2 linked regions of the Homo sapiens genome follow. The protein of the gene in region 2 purifies or fractionates together with the protein of the main gene of each other region. This does not show direct contact. Each region holds a gene or a part of one and is shown on either strand. Other genes may lie near its edges.

Evidence for each region. Proteins that work in one complex are often made in the same cells at the same time.
Region 1: the proteins of SPINDOC (region 2) and ZNG1C purify together in Homo sapiens (affinity purification with mass spectrometry; one large-scale study listed by BioGRID and IntAct). This does not show direct contact.

Annotation. Positions count from the first base shown.
Region 1 is NC_000009.12:68,296,416-68,301,120, forward strand, and holds the end of ZNG1C (zinc-regulated GTPase metalloprotein activator 1C), read left to right. Parts: intron 1-1,164; coding exon 1,165-1,233; intron 1,234-1,336; coding exon 1,337-1,402; intron 1,403-2,548; coding exon 2,549-2,678; intron 2,679-3,065; coding exon 3,066-3,172; 3' UTR 3,173-3,620; downstream 3,621-4,705.
Region 2 is NC_000011.10:63,815,645-63,820,572, reverse strand, and holds part of SPINDOC (spindlin interactor and repressor of chromatin-binding protein), read right to left. Parts: intron 2,769-4,928; coding exon 2,439-2,768; intron 2,358-2,438; coding exon 2,208-2,357; intron 2,047-2,207; coding exon 1,921-2,046; intron 1,772-1,920; coding exon 1,571-1,771; intron 1-1,570. UniProt on the Homo sapiens protein: Chromatin protein that stabilizes SPIN1 and enhances its association with histone H3 trimethylated at both 'Lys-4' and 'Lys-9' (H3K4me3K9me3).

The DNA of each region.
Region 1 (4,705 bases), on a different chromosome or scaffold from region 2:
AGAAGTTAACCAACACCACCTGTTCCCCAGTAACCTATGGAAAGAAAGAAATGTCTCATATGTTTCTGCCTAAATTGGTCTTTAATACTTTAGCGATTCTCTTGAGTTTGGATTATAAAATAGTTTTTGGTCTTTTTGTATTTTCTGCTGTAAGCCTGTATGATTATGTAATGGTGAGTAAAATTGCTAGGCCAGATACGCAGTTCTAGGAAGTTATGCAAAGATGTGCTTTAGTATATTATTTTCTACCTTTTTAAATTCATTTTGAGCTTGGCTTTTGAGCCTCTATTTTCCAAGGTGGGGTGTATGTTTTTATAATGTTATGCTTAGCCCTTGTGTATTTTCATCTCTGAGTTTGAAATTTGGGGTTATATTGGCAAAGGGAGGTTTGGGTTTTAATTAGGTGACCTGTTAGAGGAAATGTTAAGCTTCTGTTTCTTTAGGGTAGACAGTGAGAGATTTATCAAGATAAAGAAGAAAAATAAATCCTAAAGTTAATATTCAATACATGATGATGTCACCCTTACTAAAGCCAAAGAGGGCATTATCCTATCATTCTCATCGCTAAGAACTCTTCTCCTCTTGGCACATGCTTATTCAGTTAAAGATAAGCCAAGCCTTTCTTTTGTATTTTTTTTTTAAGAGAACAAATTTACTTTGGTTTTGAGTTTTATTCCTGGCTCTGGGTAGCTTATTTTTTTGACCCTTATTTTCCCCAATTTATAAAATGAAATAGTTATCTTCACTCCCCAGGATTGTTGTGAAGAGTAAGTCAAAAGATACAATGAGGTGACTCAGGCAAAAGTACCTGGCCCTGTGTAGTGAGTACATTGTATGTGTTACATATATTCTTATTCCTGAGAATCCACGAAAGAATGAATTAAATAATGAGGACCCTTTCATCAGGGTTTCTGAGTGAGTTTTTTAAAATACAAGGTAGTAGTTTGTGTAAATACTAAATCCATTGGTACCTGTGCAGAATGTAGGAAATGGAGTTGCTAATTCCAAAAAAACAGCACATATGCTGAGGAAAGTATAATACGTAATATATATGGTTTAAGCAATGTAAAATTCCATGAATATGTTCCTTTCATCTTAAAATTTGTGATTTAAAAAACATTGATATTACTATAAAGAATTATTATTATTTCCCTTGATTTACAGAGTATTGTTACAATCACATTTGAAGTACCAGGAAATGCAAAGGAAGAACATCTTAATATGTTTATTCAGGTGAATGCAATTTTTAACTGATTAATGATTTATCAATGGTTTTGTTACATAGTTGTTGCTATTAGCGATGGTTGGTCTTATTAAAATATGTCACTTGATACAGAATCTTCTGTGGGAAAAGAATGTGAGAAACAAGGACAATCACTGCATGGAGGTCATAAGGCTGAAGGTACAGTTTACTGTTGCAGACTTTTGGACAAAGTCCTTTTCTTGGCTGTTATAAAAACTATATTTGGTTTTAAACAGAAACACTGGTTTTAGTACAAATCATCTTTGTCTACTTTCATTTTTCTTTATTATTTTCATGACTGAAAAGGAGCTTTGGAAATCACTGCATAAGGCTTGATTTATTTGCACAACTTTCTTTAGGGTTGCAGCTAGAACAAACCTGTGTGCTTTGAAATGTTACCTTCTGCTCTCTGTTCCCAAGTACAGAGAAATAATGTTGCAAATCTCACTTCTGCTGAACATTATGCTTCCTGATGCATTTAGCAGACACTAAACATTTGTTGTACTCTAAACAAAGTTACAAAGGACTAGAAGAATTCTTGTTCTGTATTTAGAAACCCACTCACATTACTTGATATTTGGGTATTTAAGTCATGAAAGGTATTTCTTCTAGGAAGCAGTGATTCTAAAGTGTATGCTTAACCAGTCAGTTGAGTGTCTACTCTTGTGTGTTCACAAGTGTGCACAAAGTTTTTGGTAAATTAAGAATATTATTTCAAATAAATTAATTTCATCCCCATAGGAGCCAGTTTATCAGATAATTCGTTTCTCATTTCTGCAAATCAATACACAATGAGCTCATATTCAGATAAATTGAGCTCATATCCAGATAAATATAATAGTTTTTCTTTATTTCAACATTGTTCATTGATTGCAACCCATTTCTAAAACAAATTATTTAATATAACAAAACTCCTTTAACTTCTCAACTTTTCCCACTAAAACTGTGAAACATTATATAAAATCTTTAATCAATAGGATATGATACATATTTCATCATTTTGTTTCAGGTTTTGGTTGTGATAAATAACACTGAAAAACCATCCTAATATATGTATTAACTTTATCATTAGAAAAGGGGATTGTTCAAAAAAAAATCAATACACAGAAACCTTTTTTGAAAATTAAAAACATTAAGAAACTTCTTGTAATTCACAAATAATTGGAATTAAGTAATTTTCTCAGCTTAAGAGTTTGTATTTTTTAAGTGAATATCAGTAATTAATCCATTAACATTGATGCTCTATTTCTGCTTTTAAGTTTGAACTGAGGCTGATTAATGTTCAGTCAATTCTCCTTTGAGCAGGGATTGGTGTCAATCAAAGACAAATCACAACAAGTGATTGTCCAGGGTGTCCATGAGCTCTATGATCTGGAGGAGACTCCAGTGAGCTGGAAGGATGACACTGAGAGAACAAATCGATTGGTCCTCATTGGTAAGTCTCAAAGGATTCACAGTTTTGAAACAAAGTGAAAAATATATTTGAAAGGGATATCATGTGCCACTTAAACAGATTAACCATTCAGGTCCTCTTTTAAAACTAAATAAGCTTGTGGTCAATGTTTCATCTTTGTCACATTACAACGTTCGTAAAAGCTTGTTAGGACTTTTGTTCTTCTTCAATTTTAGAAAAGTGGTTAATCCAAGGACCAATGTGACTTTGATGTACTGACCTGGAAAGTTAAAGATGGAATCACTCAATTACTATTCTTTTTGTAAATTTTTAAACACCATAAAGCATTTAATGAACTGGAATTGATAGGTGAACTGTGTCATTTTAATAAGCATAATGTAATCACGTCATATTTTGTTTTGTTTGCAGGCAGAAATTTAGATAAGGATATCCTTAAACAGCTGTTTATAGCTACTGTGACAGAAACAGAAAAGCAGTGGACAACACATTTCAAAGAAGATCAAGTTTGTACATAACACTAGAGGCATTTCTTATCAAAAGGATTGGATAATAAAAATAAGTTTCTACTGGGTATATTTCAAGCATTTATTTATTACTTTAGTTACGAATTCCAATATACTTTAAAATGGTATTTGTTTTACAGCATACATAAAATGTAGCAAATCAGTACTGTAAAACATTTAACATTCATACAATTATATATAATATCCTTTTTTTTAAAGAATGGTATTTCACAAAAATATCTTTTGAAATTGGCTTTGGAGTTTACATATACTGAACATGAAAGTTTATAATAATGATGATACAACTTTCAACATTGTCATTTTTTCTTAGAACTTCAGCTGATTGCAGAGATATAATGATTACATTGTTATTAAATTTTTTTAACACAAGTAAGTGTCACCATTTTATGACATGAAATAAAAGGTTATGACTGTTATTGATGTTGATGTTGACGACCTGATCACCTGGCTGAAGGAGTGTTTGTCAGGTTTCTCCATTGTAAAGTTACTCTTTTCCCCCATTTCATACTGTGCTCTTTGGAAGGAAATCACTATGCACAGCCCACACTAAAGGAATGGGGAGTTGTAGTGTACTTTCTTGGGAGTGGTCTACATAATTAATTGAAATTCTTCTGCGAGGGACAGTTGTCCCTTTCGCTTTATTAGTTCGATCATTTATGTTTATCAGTGTGGACACATGAATATTTTATACTTTGGGTTACAATTTAATACTACTTTATTTTGTTGCTCAAATTATCCCAGCTTTGACCATTGGGAACTCTTTCCGTTATCTCCTGTTCCCCCCTTTGACATACCCCCATCAATGTGGGTTTTGTGTTTTGTTTTTGAGCGCCTCCTTATTTTTCTCCTGTATTTTTAAATAACCCCAATCCCTATTGAAGCTGGCTCTAGGAAAACTAACAATACTCCCTTTCCCAGGTCATCCGATTCCTATGCTGATGGAGGAAATTTGCCTCACATGCTGGGGGGCGCTGGGGAGGAGGTGTCTGGGATTATGTGGTTGAATAAGACACCTGGCCTGGCCCTCCTGGAGCTTAGTTTAGTAGGTCACACAAGCAGTCATTGGTAAATTTGGGATTCAAACAAATCTGTTAGGCTCAAACCTGTCTGTTATTTGTCCTCCAAGCTTCATATAAACTGAGGAGCCTTAAAGGGTAAAAACTTCAGGAGCAGCAAAGTTTCAAAAAAAGATCAGCAAGAAAGCTCTTTTCCAGATTTTATCCTGAAGGCACTAGCTACTTTAAGCTATTTTTTATTATATTTTGCCCTTGCAGTTGGCGTTTGATTTCTCACTGAACATTCATTGTCATAATTATAGACACTATGTGACTATCAAGGGCATAATATTCTTTCATGCTGCATTTTTATTAGATGGCACCTCAAAGTTTTCCCAAGTAGGTGGGTTTTAAATTATGAATATATACCGTGGCATAGTATCTTACTTAGTATTTTAATAAGATTCTTATTTATATAACAAATTTTTTTTATTCCTCTGTAGTGCTACTTTAGTCTCTGAGCTAATTT
Region 2 (4,928 bases):
TTGTTACAGCAGCAAATAGGAAACTGACATAAGGACCATGGGGAAGAAGGAACCATTTCTTTGAGAAATGGTTTTCCCTTTTGGAAAAAGGAATGGACATCTGCCCTTCTATACAAGTTATTTTTGTAAGGGCCAAATAAACTGTATGTAAGCTTCTTTTTTTTTTTTTTTTTTGGAGACAGAGTTTCACTCTGTTGCCCAGGCTGGAGTGCAGTGGCGCAATCTCGGCTCACTGCAACTTCCACCTCCCAGGTTCAAGCAATTCTCCTGCCTCAGCCTCCCAAGTAGCTGGGATTACAGGCGCCTGCCACCACACCTGGCTAATTTTTATATTTTTAGTAGAGATGAGGTTTCGCCATATCGGCCAGGTTGGTCTCAAACTCCCGACCTCAGGTGATCTGCCCGCCTCAGCCTGCCAAAGTGCTGGGATTACAGGCGTGAGCCACCACGACTTGCCTTGTATGTAAGCTTCTTAAACTCAGTAGGAGCCCAAACAACACAAGCACTTACTGCTGTTATGAGGCAATTTACTGAGCTGGTGTCCCCTGGAGGTGTCTGTCCACTGCTCATCTTATCTATTCTCTGGACACCTAACTGAATTGCTGAGTGGCCCCATCTGGGCCTCAGCTCCACCAGGGTAAGGTGGGCACCCCTCAGGCTCTAGCTAGAACAAACTGCATGTGTGGAAATCAGTATCAGGCTTCTGGGAAACACTGGCCTACCCGGACCCAGTGACCAATTCCAGGAAACAAGGAAACACTAAGAAAAGCCCACCTGGTCAGGTGCGGTGGCTCACGCCTGTAATCCTAGCAGTTTGGGAGGCTGAGGCAGGTGGATCACCTGAGGTCAGGAGTTCGAGACCAGCCTGGCCAACATGGCGAAACCCTGTCTCTACTAAAAATACAAAAATTAGCTGGGCATGGTGGCACACGCCTGTAATCCCAGCTACTCAGGAGGGTGAGGCAGGAGAATCGCTTGAACCTGGGAAGCAGAGGATGCACTGAACCGAGATCGCGCCACTGCACTCCAGCCTGGGCGACAGAGCAAGACTCTTGTCTCAAAAAATAAAAAATAAAAAAATAGGCCAGGCGTGGTGTACTTTGCGAGGCCAAGGCAGTTGGATCACCTGAGGTCAAGAGTTTGAGACCAACCTGGCCAACATGGGAAAACCCTGTCTCTACTAAAAATACAAAAATTAGCCGGGTATGGTGGCGCACGCCTGTAATCCCAGCTACTAGGGAGGGTGAGGCAGGAGAATTGCTTGAACCTGGGAGGCAGAGGTTGTAGTGAGCCGGGCTTGTGCTACTACATGCCAGCCTGGGCAACAGAGCAAGATTCCGTCTCAAAAAACAAACAAACAGAAAAAGAAAAGCTCAGCTTTCAGGCCAGCCTTCCTCATCATTCAGATCCCCTGCCCCGGCCCCGTGTACCAGGAAACCTGAGCACCACCCACCCCACCCACCCCACCCACCCCTACTGTGGGCTCTGCCATAGAGCAGCCTCTCTGAGGCCTGGCCCAGGAGCGCTGCCTGCGAGGTCCCTACTGTGCTTCCCTCTCAGGAGGGCTCACCTGGAGAGGGGCTCTCCGCCCGGGGAAGGCCTCCTTCTGCCACTTCCCTGTCTTTGGGTGAGTCCTTGCTGTCTGGGCCCCTGAGCTGGGTGTGGGAGAAGAGCTGCAAGACGAAGCCGGCGGGGAAGCTGCCGTCAGTGAAGTGTCGGACCTCGGCTGGTGCTGCGAAAGTCTCCGTGGGCGAGTCTGGCGATGGGGGCTCTGGAAGGGAGGACGGGATGGAACTGTGAGTGAAAAAGCCTCAGGAGCTGCAGGCGCCCTGCGCCCAGGCCCTGCTCCATCCTCACTGATGCGGATTTCCTCAGAGCACTGCGGCCAGAGCCCACGCCTCCCCCGGGCCTCCCCTTCACCTGGGTCAGGGTCCAGGTTTTTGGTCATAGGTCTGCCTCTTTTCTTTCTGACTGGCTCTTCCCCTGGGGGTTCCTTCCATCTCTGACCACGGGGCTTCTTATTTCCTGGCTCTGTGGCAGGGACAGCTGCAAAAAGAAAAGACCTCATACCCTTTTAAAGAGGCCATCCCCGAACCCTGCCACCCCAGGGCTCCTGAAGATACCTGCCCAGAACACAGGGCCTGTATTTCACCCTGTCCCCAAACCCCCACCTCCACCGGGGCTCACTGGCTTCTCTGTTGACTAACCAGGAAGCTCGAGGGGGCGGAGTCCCCTGGGCCGGCTCCTTTTAGGGAGGGATGGGTTATCCTCAGAGTCAAGGAGAACGACGATTTCGGCTGGCATTCTGGCAGCGTCTGGGTTGGCGTCTGGGTCTGGGTGGGCATCCTGGCCCGAGTCTGCAGGGAGCAAGAGCACAATGAGCTTCTAGTGCCCCAACAAGTCCGACTTCTCCCTTCGCCAGCCCCAGGACCAACTACCTGAGTTGGGTGGGGACGGCTGCTCAGCTCTCACGTCTTGCAAGAGGGCCACCCCTTCACTCCAGGCCTCCAGGATATTGCTCTTCTCAGAAGGGCTCAGGTCCAAGGTGTGAGGGTGCTGCTCCAAGATGTGCGAGCGAGCTGTGTCGGCCGAGGGTGCCCGGATCTCAGCGCCACACACCATGCACAGTGCCCGCCCGCTGCCTCCTGGGCTGCTGCCCACCAGGAACTCCTGCTCCCAAGACACCTGCTGCTTCGGCTCCTCACAGCCATCACTGCCTGCCTCTAGCGGGCTGGGTCTAGGCGGTGGGGTCTTCTCCTGTTGGGTCACTGCGAGGGGAGAGGGGGAGGGTGTTATCACTAAAGGTGCCCACAACCAACAACACTTAGCACGTCTCCAGACTCAGTGGTTTGAGTGGGATGGGGGAGGAGAGCATTTCTGGCCAAAGTGTTCTTCTTCCTTCCCCTGGAGCCCATGAGGCACACGCCACACTCAACACAGCCGATGTGCCCGGGATCCCACGACTCTCGCGTCTATACTTCCTCTTGATCTAGTCTTGGACCTTAGGACTAACTACACATACTTTCCCAACAGGCTGCATTCTTGCAGGTCTCCAGCCTTTGCACATCTGTCCAGACCACCCTAATTGGGCTGGGCAACATCATCCCTGCGAAGCTTTCCAGAACCCCAATCCCTGACAATAGATTTCATCCAAATCTGACTTCTACACTTTCTTGAGGATGAGGAAGGTAAATTCTTTTAATTTTTAAATTTTATTTATTTATTTTGAGACAGAGTCTCACTTTGTCACCCAGGCTGGAATGCAATGGCGTAATCTCAGCTCATTGCAGCCTTGACCTCCTGGGTTCAAGCGATCCTCCTGCTTCAGCCTCCCAAGCACCTGGGACTACAGGTGAGCGCCACCATGCCTGGCTAATAATTTTTTTTTTAAAAGATGGGGGTCTCATTTTGTCACCCAGGCTGGAGTACAGTGGTGTTATCATAGCTTACTGCTGCCTTCAACTCCTGGACTCAAGGGACCCTCCAGCCTTAGCCACCTGAGTAGCTAGGGCTACAGATAGATGCATGCTATCACACCCAGCTAATTAACAAACAAAAAAATAATTTTTAAGAGATGGGGTCTTGCTATGTTGCCCAGGCTGGTTGTGAACTCCCGGGCTCAAGCAATCCTCCTGCTTCAGCCTCCCAAAGTGCTGGGATTATAGGCATGAGCCACCATGCCCGTTCTAAAGGCCACCCCATCCCCTCAGAACTCGCCTCCCTTCTCAGTGCTCACAGAGCATTTACAGCCATGGTCCCACTCCTATTGCTGCCTGATACCTGCTCTTTGTGTACACAGACAGACCATAAGCTTTCACAGGGCATCACCCTTTCCAGTTCAGCAAAGAAGGCAGCCTTAGACCTGCATCAGCCTGGAAGCTCAGTGCTTTTACGAAGTGCCCATGATCCTTCACGGCTGCATCTCCCTCCTACCTTCCAGAGAGGATGGGACAAAATTAAAACACAGGAGGCCCTAATACCTGGGGGCTGCATGGAAGAGGTGGTATGAGAAATAGGAGCCTCGGCTTGCATGGATACAAGAGGTGGTGTCTGAAAGAGATACGAGATATGTCTTGTACCTATCTCTCATGCGACCATGGGCAGAAATGACCTCTCAGTTGCAATCAGCTTTCTTCCCTACTAGTCTTCCAAAACAGCTCTCATCCAAGTCAGCAGTGCTAAACTCTGCGGTCAGTTTCTCAACTTCATCCTCTGCCGATCACCTCTTCCATCTTGATTTTCATCACTTGCGTCTAGGGCATGACCTTCTGTTGGTTCTTCTTTTGCTTCCCTGGCCCTCTTTCTCAGTTATGTGTGCTAGTTCTTCCTCATCTCTTCTCAATATTCCCTCCCTTCCTCTGGCTTGTTGCTGAAGACCATCTCCCCTCACTAGAGCACCCCATTCCCCTTATGCATCACCTCCAACACAGCACACATCACCACCTGGCACTTGTTTTTGGGATGTTCACTGCCTGTCTCCTTACCACACCATAGCATCCATGACCACGGCCAGGTGCGGTGGCTCACGCCTGAATCCTAGCACTTTGGGAGGCCGAGGTGGGCGGATCACCTGAGGTTGAGAGTTCAAGACCAACCCCACCAACATGGGGAAACCCTATCTCTATTAAAAATACAAAATTAGCTGGGCGTGGTGGCACATGCCTATAATCCCAGTTACTCGGGAGGTTGAGGCAGAAGAATCACTTGAACCCGGGAGGCGAAGGTTGCAGTGAGCCGAGATTGTGCCATTGCACTACAGCTTGGGCAAAAAGAGCAAAACTCCGTCTCAAAAAAAAAAAAAAAATCCATGACCATACAGATTTCTGATGTTTTGCATCTGTATCTCCAGCATCTGTATCTGTATCTCCTCGCATGCAGTGGCATTTAGTAATGTGTGATGAGGGACTGACTCGGTCTCCAACCTGCCA